Regions from separate parts of the Homo sapiens genome. Here region 1 is linked to region 2. Evidence: fine-mapped expression QTL. A gene starts in region 2. The other region holds a variant in brackets. All regions are shown on one strand. Distances are between the middles of the regions. Region 1 has its middle 26 kb from the start of ZFAND2A-DT. Region 2 holds the start of ZFAND2A (zinc finger AN1-type containing 2A).

Region 1 (5,512 bases), 26 kb before region 2:
ACAGCCCGTCTAGCCAGGTGCGCCACGGACAGTGGAGGAGGTGGGGTCACAGACTAAGGAGGCCTTGCCCGCCTTCTTCTTCTTCTTCCTCTTCCTCCTCCTCCTCCTCTTCTTCCTCCTTCTCTTCCTCCTCCTCTTCCTCCTCCTCCTCTTCCTCTTCTTCCTTTTCCTCTTCTTCCTCTTCCTCCTCTTCCTCTTCCTTCTCTTCCTCTTCCTCCTCTTCCTCTTCCTCCTCCTCCTCTTCCTCTTCTTCCTCTTCCTCTTTCTCTTCCTCCTCTTCCTCTTCTTCCTCCTCCTCTTCTTCCTCTTCCTCTTCTTCCTCTTTCTCTTCCTCTTCCTCCTCTTCCTCTTCTTCGTCTTCCTCTTCCTCCTCTTCCTCTTCTTCCTCTTCCTCTTCTTCTTCCTCTTCCTCTTCCCCTTCTCCTTCTTCCCCTTCTCCTTCTTCTTCTTCTTCTTCCTATTATTTGTAGAGATGGAGTCTTCCTATGTTGCCCAGGCCAGTCTTAAACTCCTGGGCTCAGGCAACTCTCCTGCCTTGGCAGGAGGAGGGTTAGGTTTAGGGTTAGGGTTAGGGTTAGGTTTATGGGAAGCAATGCCATCATTTTAGACTAAAAAGTCATGGTAGATTAATCATCTTAATGTACAGAATGTGGTGAGATGCCTGCTTCTTTCTTTTTGGTCAAAGAGAAGTAAGCTAGAGTTTTTGCCAGAGAAAAAAGGTGCCTCTGGCACTCCCAGAAGCCTGGGCAGGCCAGGAGCAGTGCTCATGCCTGTAACCCCCGCACTTTGTGAGGCCAATACAGAAGGATCCCTTGAGCCAGGAGTTCAAGACCAGCCTGGGAAACATAGAGACCCCCCCCCACCGCCCCCACTCTACAAAAAATTTAAAAATTCGCTGGGCATGGTGGCTCACGCCTGTGGTTCCAGCTACTCAGGAGGCTGAGGTGGGAGGATTGCCTGAACTCTGGAGGTCGAGGCTGCAGTGAGCTATTAATACGATTGCACTGCACTCTAGCCTGGGCAACAGAGCAAGACCCTGTCTAGAAAAACAAAAACAAAAACAGACTCAAAGACTCAATAATTCAAATTCAAAACTTCTCAAAAGAGAAGATAGAGGCCGGGCGCGGTGGCTCACACCTGTAATCCCAGCACTTTGGGAGGCTGAGGCAGGTGGATCATGAGATCAGGAGTTCAAGACCAGCCTGGCCAAGATGGTGAAACCTCATCTCTACTAAAAATACAAAAATTAGCCACGTGTGGTGGCACACGCCTGTAATCCGAGCTACTCAGGAGGCTGAAGCAGAGAATTGCTTGAACCGAGGGGGCGGAGTTTGCTGTAAGCCAAGATTGTGCCACTGCACTCCAGCCTGGGTGACAGAGTGAAACTCTGTCTCAAAACAAAAAACAAAAAACAAACAAAAAAACAAAAAGAGAAGATAGAGACAGACTTCTTTTTTTGGTGCAGGGGGATGGAATCTCACTCTGTCACCCAGGCTGGAGTCCAGTAGCGACGAGATCTTGGCTCACTGTGACCTCCGCCTCTCAGATTCAAGTGATTCTCCTGCTTCAGCTTCCCAAGTAGCTGGGATTACAGGTGCCCACCACCACGCCTGGCTAATTTCTTTGTGTTTTTAGTAGAGACAGGATTTTACCATGTTGGCCAGGCTGGTCTCGAACTCCTGACCTCGTGATCCACCCGCCTCGGCCTCCCAAAGTGCTGGGATTACACACGTAAGCCCCCGCGCTGCCCGTAACCTATATTTCTACACAGCTGTCATTTCAGGAATATCGTAGGCATGAAACCATGTGGGTCACAGCCTCTGGGACTGACTTCTTCTCATCCAGCACAATTCTCTGTAGATTAACCCACGTTGTGTGTGTCAACATCCCTTCCTCCTTCTTGCTAAACAGATTCCACCTGAAGAGATTTCAAAAGACAAGAACAGTTTTAAAGACCACGTGCACTTTTCAGATGAAGGGGGATTCGCCCTGCTGGGGTCTGCGGCACTCAAACAAAAACACATTCTCGCATATCTCCAGAGTCTCAAATGTGCCTAAAAATTCTACTTGCTTGTCTCTTTTTTAAGGAACTAACTTAATCTCCCCCCCGACTTTTTTTTTTTTT[C/T]TTTTTTGAGACAGAGTCTCGCTCTGTCGCCCAGGCTGGAGGGCAGTGGCACGATCTCGGATCACTGCAAGCTCCGCCTCCCGGGTTCCTGCCATTCTCCTGCCTCAGCCTCCTGAGTAGCTGGAACTACAGGCGCCCGCCACCACACTCGGCTAATTTTTGTATTTTTAGTAGAGACGGAGTTTCACCATGTTGGCCAGGCTGGTTTCAAACTCCCGACCTCAGGTGATCCTCCCGCCTCAGCCTCCCAAAGTGCTGGGATGACAGGCGTGAGCCACTGTGCCTGGCCAGGAACTAACTTAATCCCGATCATGTAAAATTTCAGCTCAATTTATCACTTCTTACTTCACTGCAATTAAATAATCTCCAACACATATATTAAAAGTTATAGAAGTCATTTATTGTTCCTCTTTAAAGTTATTTATGCACAGAATATAACCTACCTCTTATTTCTATTTTATTTTCCCTGTGGTTAACACGCTGTCTGTCAGTCTCTTCCGTCGGCTTTTGCTTTTTAATTGTGCCACTGCTGTAATATATGGTCTTTATTGCATTAGTTTATGCCTTATATTAAATTATGTTCATCTAAGATTTGCAAGAAAAATAGCTTTTCGGCTTACTCAGGAATTTGGGAGACTTAATTTCGGTCGGCTGATTCTCAAGAAAGAAATTACAGTGTGAAAGGCAAAATGCCAGGGGAGGGATGGAGGCTTCGGAGGACGGGAAGGCGCCCTCAGCCTCGTGCCCTCTCTCAAGGTGAAAGGCACCTGAAGACGTTTTCACTCAACACTTTCTTTTCTGTTTTGTTTTGTTTTTTTCCAGACAGGTCTCGCTCTGTCACCCAGACTGGAGCTCAGGGTTTAATCATAGCTCACTGCAGCTTTGACCTCCTGAGTTCATGGGATCCTCCCACCTCAGTCTCCCAAGTAGCTGGGACTACAGGCGCACACCACCATGCCCAGCTAATTTTTCCGTTTTTAGTAGAGATGGGGTTTTGCCATGTTGCCCAGGCTCGTCTCGAACCCCTGACCTCAGGTGATCCGCCCACCTCGGCCTCCCAAGCAGCTGGGATTACAGGCATGAGCCACTATGCCTGGCCTCGTTCATTAAACACTTTCCATGGCAAGGCGGGGGGCTCGGGTAGGGCGATTGGCTGCAGGGCCCCCGTGGGGAGCAGGTGCTGGGTCGAGACCGGCACTCCTGGGGGCCTCTGAACTCCCCAGCAGCTCTTCACTCGGTTTCCCCGTTGCAATGATAACATCAGCTTGTGCCTGCCCCCGTCTGCCTGAAGCTTCTCCTCAGATCCTGCTGCCTGGCTCGGACCACTATGGACCCCGGGACTGACAATCTAACTGCCTCTGCTGCACCTGGCGGGGGCCCTGTAGACCCTGTCCACATACAGCCTGTGGACACCCAGTGCTCAGCCAGTCTTCCCTGCTGGGGGCTGAGGGTGGACAGAAAAGGCGGCAAGGAAAGTCCTCCACGGAGGGGGAGGGTGGACGGAAAAGGCGGCAGGGAAAGTCCACGGAGGGGCCGTGGGTGTCGGGGCCACAGCATGACCATGGAGACAGCTCGGTCCGCGTCGCCACGCTGAGAGGCGCCATCCTTTCAGGGCATGGCAGGTCGGGAGACCGAGGCAGGGGAGAGGTGCACAGCGAGGCGTTGACTCCTGAGGCCACAGTCCTCACCAGCCATTTCAATGGCAGCTGGAAAAGAAGTTCCCAGCTCTGTCCCTGGGACAGGGCTGGCCGCGTGTGTGGCACATTCTCAGTGCATGTTGCTGAACCAGGAACACGTGAATGTCAGACTCCAGTTCCACGCCTGGGCAGGTGCCCAACAGAAGGGGGTGCCTGTGGCCACCCAGAAACAGCGCTGGTCAGAGCATGATATTCATAACAGTCAAAAAATGGAAGCATCCGCCAGACTGGGCAATATAGTGAGACTCCATTGCTGCAAAAAAATAATTTTTTTTTTTTTTTGAGACGGAGTCTCGCTCTGTCACCCAGGCTGGAGAGCAAAGTGGCATGATCTTGGCTCACTACAACCTCTGCCTCCTGGGTTCAGGCAGTTCTCCTGCCTCAGCCTCCTGAGAGTAGCTGCAGGTGCCCGCCACCCCACCTGGCTAATTTTTGTATTTTTAGTAGAGATGGGGTTTGCCATGTTGGCCAGGCTGGTCTCAAACTCCTGACCTCAGGTGATCCACCTGCCTTGGCCTCCCGAAGTTGTTAGCCAGGCATGGTGGTGGGCACCTGTGGTCCCAGCTACTCAGCAGGCTGAGGTGGGAGGATCGCTTGAGCCCAGGAGGTCGAGACTGCAGTGAGCTATGATTGCACCACTGCACTCCAGCCTGGGTGACAGAGTGAGACCTTGTCTCTAGGGGAAAAAATAAAAGACAAACCAAAAAACCAAGGAAGCAGCCCAGATGCCCATCACAGAACGGGTGGGTGTGAAATGCACTCATCATGGAATACTACACGATAAGGAAGCAAGGAAAACTGCTGCACATGGCCACACAGATGAACCTCACAGAACCCGAGGCCGGGTGCGGCGGCTCACGCCTGTCATCCCAGCACTTTGGGAGGGCAAGGCAGGTGGGTCACCTGAGGTCAGGAGTTCGAGACCAGCCTGGCCAACATGGCAAAAGCCCGTGTCTACTAAAAATAGAAAAAATTAGTCTGGGCACGGTGGCTTACGCCTGTAATCCCAGCACTTTGGGAGGCCGAGGCGGGTGGATCACCAGGTCAGGAGATCGAGACCATCCTGGCTAACACGGTGAAACCCCGTCTCTACTAAAAATACAAAAAAAAAAAAAAAATTAGCTGGGCGTGGTTGTGGGTGCCTGTAGTCCCAGCTACTTGGGAGGCTGAGGCAGGAGAATGGTGTGAACCTGGGAGGCAGAGCTTGCAGTGAGCCGAGGTCGTGCCACTGCACTCCAGCCTGGGTGACAGAGCGAGACTCCGTCTGAAAAAAAAGGAATGATGCCAGGTGTGGTGGCTCACACCTGCAATTCCAACACTTAGGGAGGCCGAGGCAGGAGGATCAATTGAGCCCAGGAGTTCGAGACCAGCCTGGCCAACATGGCAAAACCCTGTCTCTACTAAAAATACTAAATTAGCCGGGCGTGGTGGCGGGCACCTGTAATCCCAGCTACTCGGGAGGCTGAGGCAGGAGAGTCATTTGAACCTGGGAGGCGGAGGTTGCAGTGAGCCGAGATCGTGCTACTGCACTCCAGCCTGGGCGACAGAGTGAGACTCTGTCTCAAAAAAAAAAAAAAAAAAAGCCTGACTCTGGGCTTTGCAATATCGCCAGGAAAGGCAGGCACTCCACACCCTGAACGGAGGTAAAGTCCTTGTGCCTCCCATGGGCCCAGCTGAGCTGGACTCAGGT
Region 2 (5,172 bases):
GAAACCCCATCTCTTCCTAAAATACAAAACAATTAGCTGTGCGTGGTGGTGTGTACCTGTAATCCTACTTGGGAGGCTGAGGTGGGAGAATCACTTGAACCTGCAAGGCGGAGGTTGCAATGAGCCGAGACCGAGTCATTGCACTCCAGCCTGGGCAACAAGAATGAAACTCTGTCTCAGAAAAAAAAAAAAAAAGAAAAAGAAAAAAAAAGAAAATGTGGGTAAAACAGGGTTAACGAACCAGTCCAAGGAGAGCGATGTGGCCAAGGAGGAGGTCCTGCACTGATCCAGACATCTTGAAAGGTGGGAGTCCGGGCCTGGGCAGAGCCTTCAAGGGGAGATGTTGTGTGATTGGGAGGGACAGCAAGATGGAGCCAGTCACCACCGCCGTGCAGCTGGTGAGGTCCTGCTCTTTTCACAGCCCTTGAGTTCTCTGGTGAAAACCGAGAGTAAAGACTGTACAATAAGCCGGGCACAGTGGCTCATGTTCTGTAATCCCAGCGCTTTGGGAAGCTGAGGCAGAGGGATCACCTGAGGTCAGGAGTTCAAGACCAGCCTGGGCTACATAGCAAAACCCCGTATCTACAAAAAATACAAAAATTAGCCAGGCATGATGGCGCATGCCTGTAGCTCCCGCTACTCAGGAGCCTGAGGAAGAAGGATGGCTTGAGCCTGGGAGGTGGAGGCTGCAGTGAGCTGTGATCATCCCAGTGCCCTTCAGCCTGAGCCACAGAGGAAGACACTGTCTAAAGAAAAACAACAAGCTGGGCGCAGTGGCTCACGCCTGTAATGCCAGTACTTTGGGAGGCCGAGGCAGGCAGATCACCTGAGGTTGGGAGTTTGAGACCAGCCTGACCAATATGGAGAAACCCCCGTCTCTACTAAAAATACAAAATTAGCCGGGCCTGGTGGTGCATGCCTGTAATCCCAGCTACTTGGGAGACTGAGGCAGGAGAATCGCTTGAACCCAGGAGGTGGTGGTTCCGGTGAGCCGAGATCACACCACTGCACTCCAGCCTGGGCAACAAGAGTGAAACTCCATCTCAAAACAACAAACAAAAAACAAAACAAGAAAAAGCATGCCTGGTTGTGTCTGTCCTTACCTGATTGGGCATGGTCTCTATTGATTAGGCGACCATCTGGTCTGGTTGGCACGACGCTTTTTGGGTTTGAGGAAGGGTCTGCTCTGCTGCCCAGGCTCTAGTGCAGGGCGCATTCACAGCTGACTTATGCCTCCACCTCCCAAGAGGCTGGGACTGCAGGTGCATGCCACCATGCTGCGTTCATTTCTTATTTTTGTAGAGACAGGGTTTCGTCATGTTCACCAGGCTGGTCTTGAACTCCTGTCAGGCCTCTGAGCCCAAGCTAAGCCATCATATCCCCAGTGACCTGCATGTATACATCCAGATGGCCTGAAGCAACTGAAGATCCACAAAAGAAGTGAAAACAGCCTTAACTGATGACATTCCACCCTTGTAATTTGTTTCTGCCCCATCCTAACTGATCAATGTACTTTGTAATCTCCTCTACCCTTAAGAAGGTTCTTTGTAATTCTCCCCACCCTTGAGAATGTACCTTATGAGATCCACCACCTGCCTGCAAAACATTGCTCCTAACTCCACCGTCTATCCCAAAACCTGTAAGAACTAATGATAATCCCATCGCCCTTTGCTGACTCTCTTTTCCGACTCAGCCGGGCTGCACCCGGGTGAAATAAACAGCCTTGTTGCTCACACAAAGCCTGTTTGGTGGTCTCTTCACACAGACATGTGAGACACTAACCTCAGGCCATCCTCCCACCTCGGCCTCCCAAAGTGCCGGGATTACAGGCCTGAGCCACCGTGCACCGTCCGGCTAATATTTTATTTCTGCAGAGATGGGGTCTCGCTATGTTGCCCAGGCTGGTCTCCATGTCCTGGGCCCACGCCCTCCTCCTGCCCAGCTGGGCGGGGTCTTACCCAGGCGGAGCCCCTTACGTGCAGGGCGTTCTGTGCAGTGACCGCGGCCCTGGGCAGAGCCAACCCCACGCGGCCACATAACCGTCCAGGGGGCGGGGGGCAGCGCGGTGAAATGGAAAAGGATTTAACTGGGGGATCTAGGTGCTGGGGACACTGACATTTTCGGTATTATTCTTGAAGCTTTTCCCTAAGTTTGAAATTACCTAAAAACACGTTGTTTTGAGATGGAGGCCTCCTGGGGCCCGCAGGATGCGCGGCCGCGGGCGGGTGCCCGGGGCGGGAGGCGCCGGATGGGTCGCTAGGCCTCCTCCCTCAGGCCGGCCTCGCGCTCCTACCCCGCAGGACCCCGGCCGCAGCCCTGAGTCAGCTTCCCCGCTCCTCGCCCGCCCGGCTGCGCCTGCGCGGAGCCGCCTCACTGTGACCCAGCAAGCGCGCCGCCTGCGAGAAGCGACCGGACACTTCGAGAAGGGAAGTGGAGAAGCGAGGAGTGGGCGGGCCTGCGGGGCGCGGCGGGGCGGGATTGGCCGGATGGCTGGTGTCGTCTTCGGTGTGCGCCGGCGCCACTGGGCCGCGGCCTGGCGGGATTGGCCGGTCTGCGGGTGACGTTGTCGGGGCGCGCCCGGAAACCCCAAGGCCCAGACGGCTCTCAGATCCGGGGGCTGCGGATAAATCCCCGTAGGCCGCGGGCAGCGAGATGTTGCGTTCCGGTGTGGGTGTGGGTGTGCCTCCGACGGCGTCTCGGTGCCAGTGTCGAGGTTCTTTCTGCTTAGCTACCCGGAGCCGACTACGGAGGAGGACACCTGAGTTTACGTCTCTTCCATCTGCTGCTCACCTCAGCTGCCTGGGTCCCCGACGAGAGCCAGGTACGGGGCCGGGATTGCGCAGACAGGGTCTGCCGGGGGTCGGGCCTGCCTTGAGGTCAGGTTGCTCGGGGGTTCGGCCTGTCTGCTAGGAGTGCGGCTGCTGAAAGTCCGGCTGCTTGCTGGAGGTCAGGCTGCTGGGGGTCCGGCCTGTCTGCTGGGGACCGGGCCTGCCGGGGTCTGGCTGCTGGGGGTCCGGCCTGTCTGCTGGGGACCGGGCCTGCCGGGGTCTGGCTGTTGGGGGTCCGGCTGTCTGCTGGGGACCGGGCCTGCCGGGGTCTGGCTGCTGGGGGTCCGGCCTGTCTGCTGGGGACCGGGCCTGCCGGGGTCTGGCTGCTGGGGGTCCGGCCTGTCTGCTGGGGACCGGGCCTGCCGGGGTCTGGCTGTTGGGGGTCCGGCCTGTCTGCTGGGGACCGGGCCTGCCGGGGTCTGGCTGTTGGGGGTCCGGCTGTCTGCTGGGGACCGGGCCTGCCGGGGTCTGGCTGCTGGGGGTCCGGCCTGTCTGCTGGGAGTCCGGCTGTCTGCTGGGGGCCGGGCCTGCCATCGGGGCCGTAGTACCGGGTCGCACGGGGTCGTTAACCCGCCAGCCGAGTGACAGCCACGTAGATGTGTGTTTTCTTGCTGCGGGCCCGGCCCGCCAGGGTAGGGTGTTGGTTTCCTAGGACGGGTGCTGTGCGTCCAGAACAAAATCATTTGGGGATTCACATCAAACTCTTGTGAATTCCTTGAACAAAACAATTTCGGAACGCCTGCTGTGTGTCGGGCACCGGGAGCTAATAGTAAAGCAGCGGATCTGTAGTTGGAAGCTGTGGGCGAAGGAGGGCTGGGAAAGGACTAATGGGCACCTTAAGTAGCGGGCGTGTAACATAGAGGGAACTGGGGAGGGTGGGAATGGCTTTAAACTGAGGCGGGAGGGGATAACTAGACGTTTGCCATGGGCGAGAGTGTTCCAGTCTTAGGCGACAGTCTAGGAGGCCTCCAGGAGTGGGGAGAGAGCTGATGGGAAGGTCAGGAAAAGGCCCCGGGAGGGGCTGGTGAGTACTAGATGACGGGACCTCGTGAGCCCCAGGAAAAGGCCCCGGGAGGGCTGGTGGGTACTAGATCATGGAGGGGACCTCGTGAGCCCCTTGATTCTCTCTCGAGTGCGGTAGTTTCACCAGCTGTCTGCCTGTTTTCCATAGTGACTTAACAGCTTGCGCTTCTCCCTGATCAACTCCAGGTTGATGTCATCGAGGAATAAGTTCACAGTAAGATTCAATGCCTAAGGGAGTTGAAGAGAGAGGCGAGGGACAGAGTTAAATCTTCTCTGGATAATGGAGTCAACTGATGTGATTTAGCACCTAGTAACAGAGTTTTGTTTATGTGAACAAGTATATTCCATGGATAAAATTGTGACTTAAAATTCACCAAAGTCGTAATCATCACTGGCAGCTGTGTGAATTAGCTCTCGCCCCCTCAGTGTGAGTTTAAATAGAAACCCGAGTTCAAGGAGTGCTTCATAGACTAGGAATTAAAAGGCCTGTGAAGGAGTCCGTGTCTCTTAATGGGGTTGACTACGAATGGCGGACACCTGGTATTTGTACTAAAACTCCATGGAATGCTCCCCACACAGTGCGTTTGTTGACTTTCATTAGCTGTAATTACATTGTAAATCCTGGTGACTGAAGGGCAGTCCAGCTTTCCTCCTAACTATTCTGATTCTCTTGTAGGTGACACTTAACTCCGCCATCTGCGTTTTGAGCACTGTTCTCATAATGGAGTTTCCTGATTTGGGGAAGCATTGTTCAGAAAAGACTTGCAAGCAGCTAGGTGAGTACTTTTAAGAGACTTAATAGAAAATGGTATTTTGTTGGGGGAAAGCTGGCTGTTCTGTTAATTAGCTGATAATTGTGTCTTGGCCTTCCTGGCTCCTCAGTATTGGGAACTGTGCTGGTGCAGGTTCTGTTTGACACTTAGCATCCACCAGAGGCTGGGTGCAGGAGTGCAGGCTGGCTAGCAGGGCCAGGTGGATCCAGGGGGCTGCTGGAATACTTGCGATGCCATAGGGGGTCTCTAGAAGACAGCCTGACCCTGGGATTGTTTTCACATGTGTGGCCCTCGAGGACCTGTCCATCTCATAGGCCTAAAACACTTAGTGTAGGTAAACACTTTGATAGTACTATCTGGAAGTATTTTGTTCCAGTCGTTAAAACACTTCCCTGTTTTTTGTTTTTTAGATTTTCTTCCAGTAAAATGTGATGCATGTAAACAAGATTTCTGTAAAGATCATTTTCCATACGCTGCACATAAGTGTCCGTTTGCATTCCAGAAGGTAATTGATCCTTTGTTCAAAAGATTCTCATCTTCACCGTCTG

What was found. PIP is the estimated chance that this variant, and not a neighbour inherited with it, causes the effect. A credible set is the group of variants that fine-mapping cannot tell apart.
Region 1: its variant is the best candidate, but not a certain one, in a credible set for the expression of ZFAND2A in CD8 T cells (CEDAR, PIP 0.57).

Annotation. Positions count from the first base shown.
Region 1 is chr7:1,183,716-1,189,227 of GRCh38, reverse strand. No RefSeq gene overlaps it. Among named protein-coding and RNA genes, the nearest start is that of ZFAND2A-DT, 26 kb to the right of the region's middle. The variant C/T (reference allele first, on the strand shown) is at 2,126.
Region 2 is chr7:1,157,613-1,162,784 of GRCh38, reverse strand. ZFAND2A (zinc finger AN1-type containing 2A) reads left to right here and starts at 2,589. Exons shown (of 5, transcript NM_182491.4): 1 at 2,589-2,821; 2 at 4,528-4,627; 3 at 5,035-5,129. The coding sequence starts at 4,573. It overlaps ZFAND2A-DT (ZFAND2A divergent transcript), which reads right to left and starts at 2,411. Exons shown (of 3, transcript NR_110069.1): 1 at 2,162-2,411; 2 at 242-433. RefSeq lists enhancers at 1,433-1,945, 1,946-2,459, 2,460-2,972, 2,973-3,487 and silencers at 2,051-2,100, 2,111-2,650.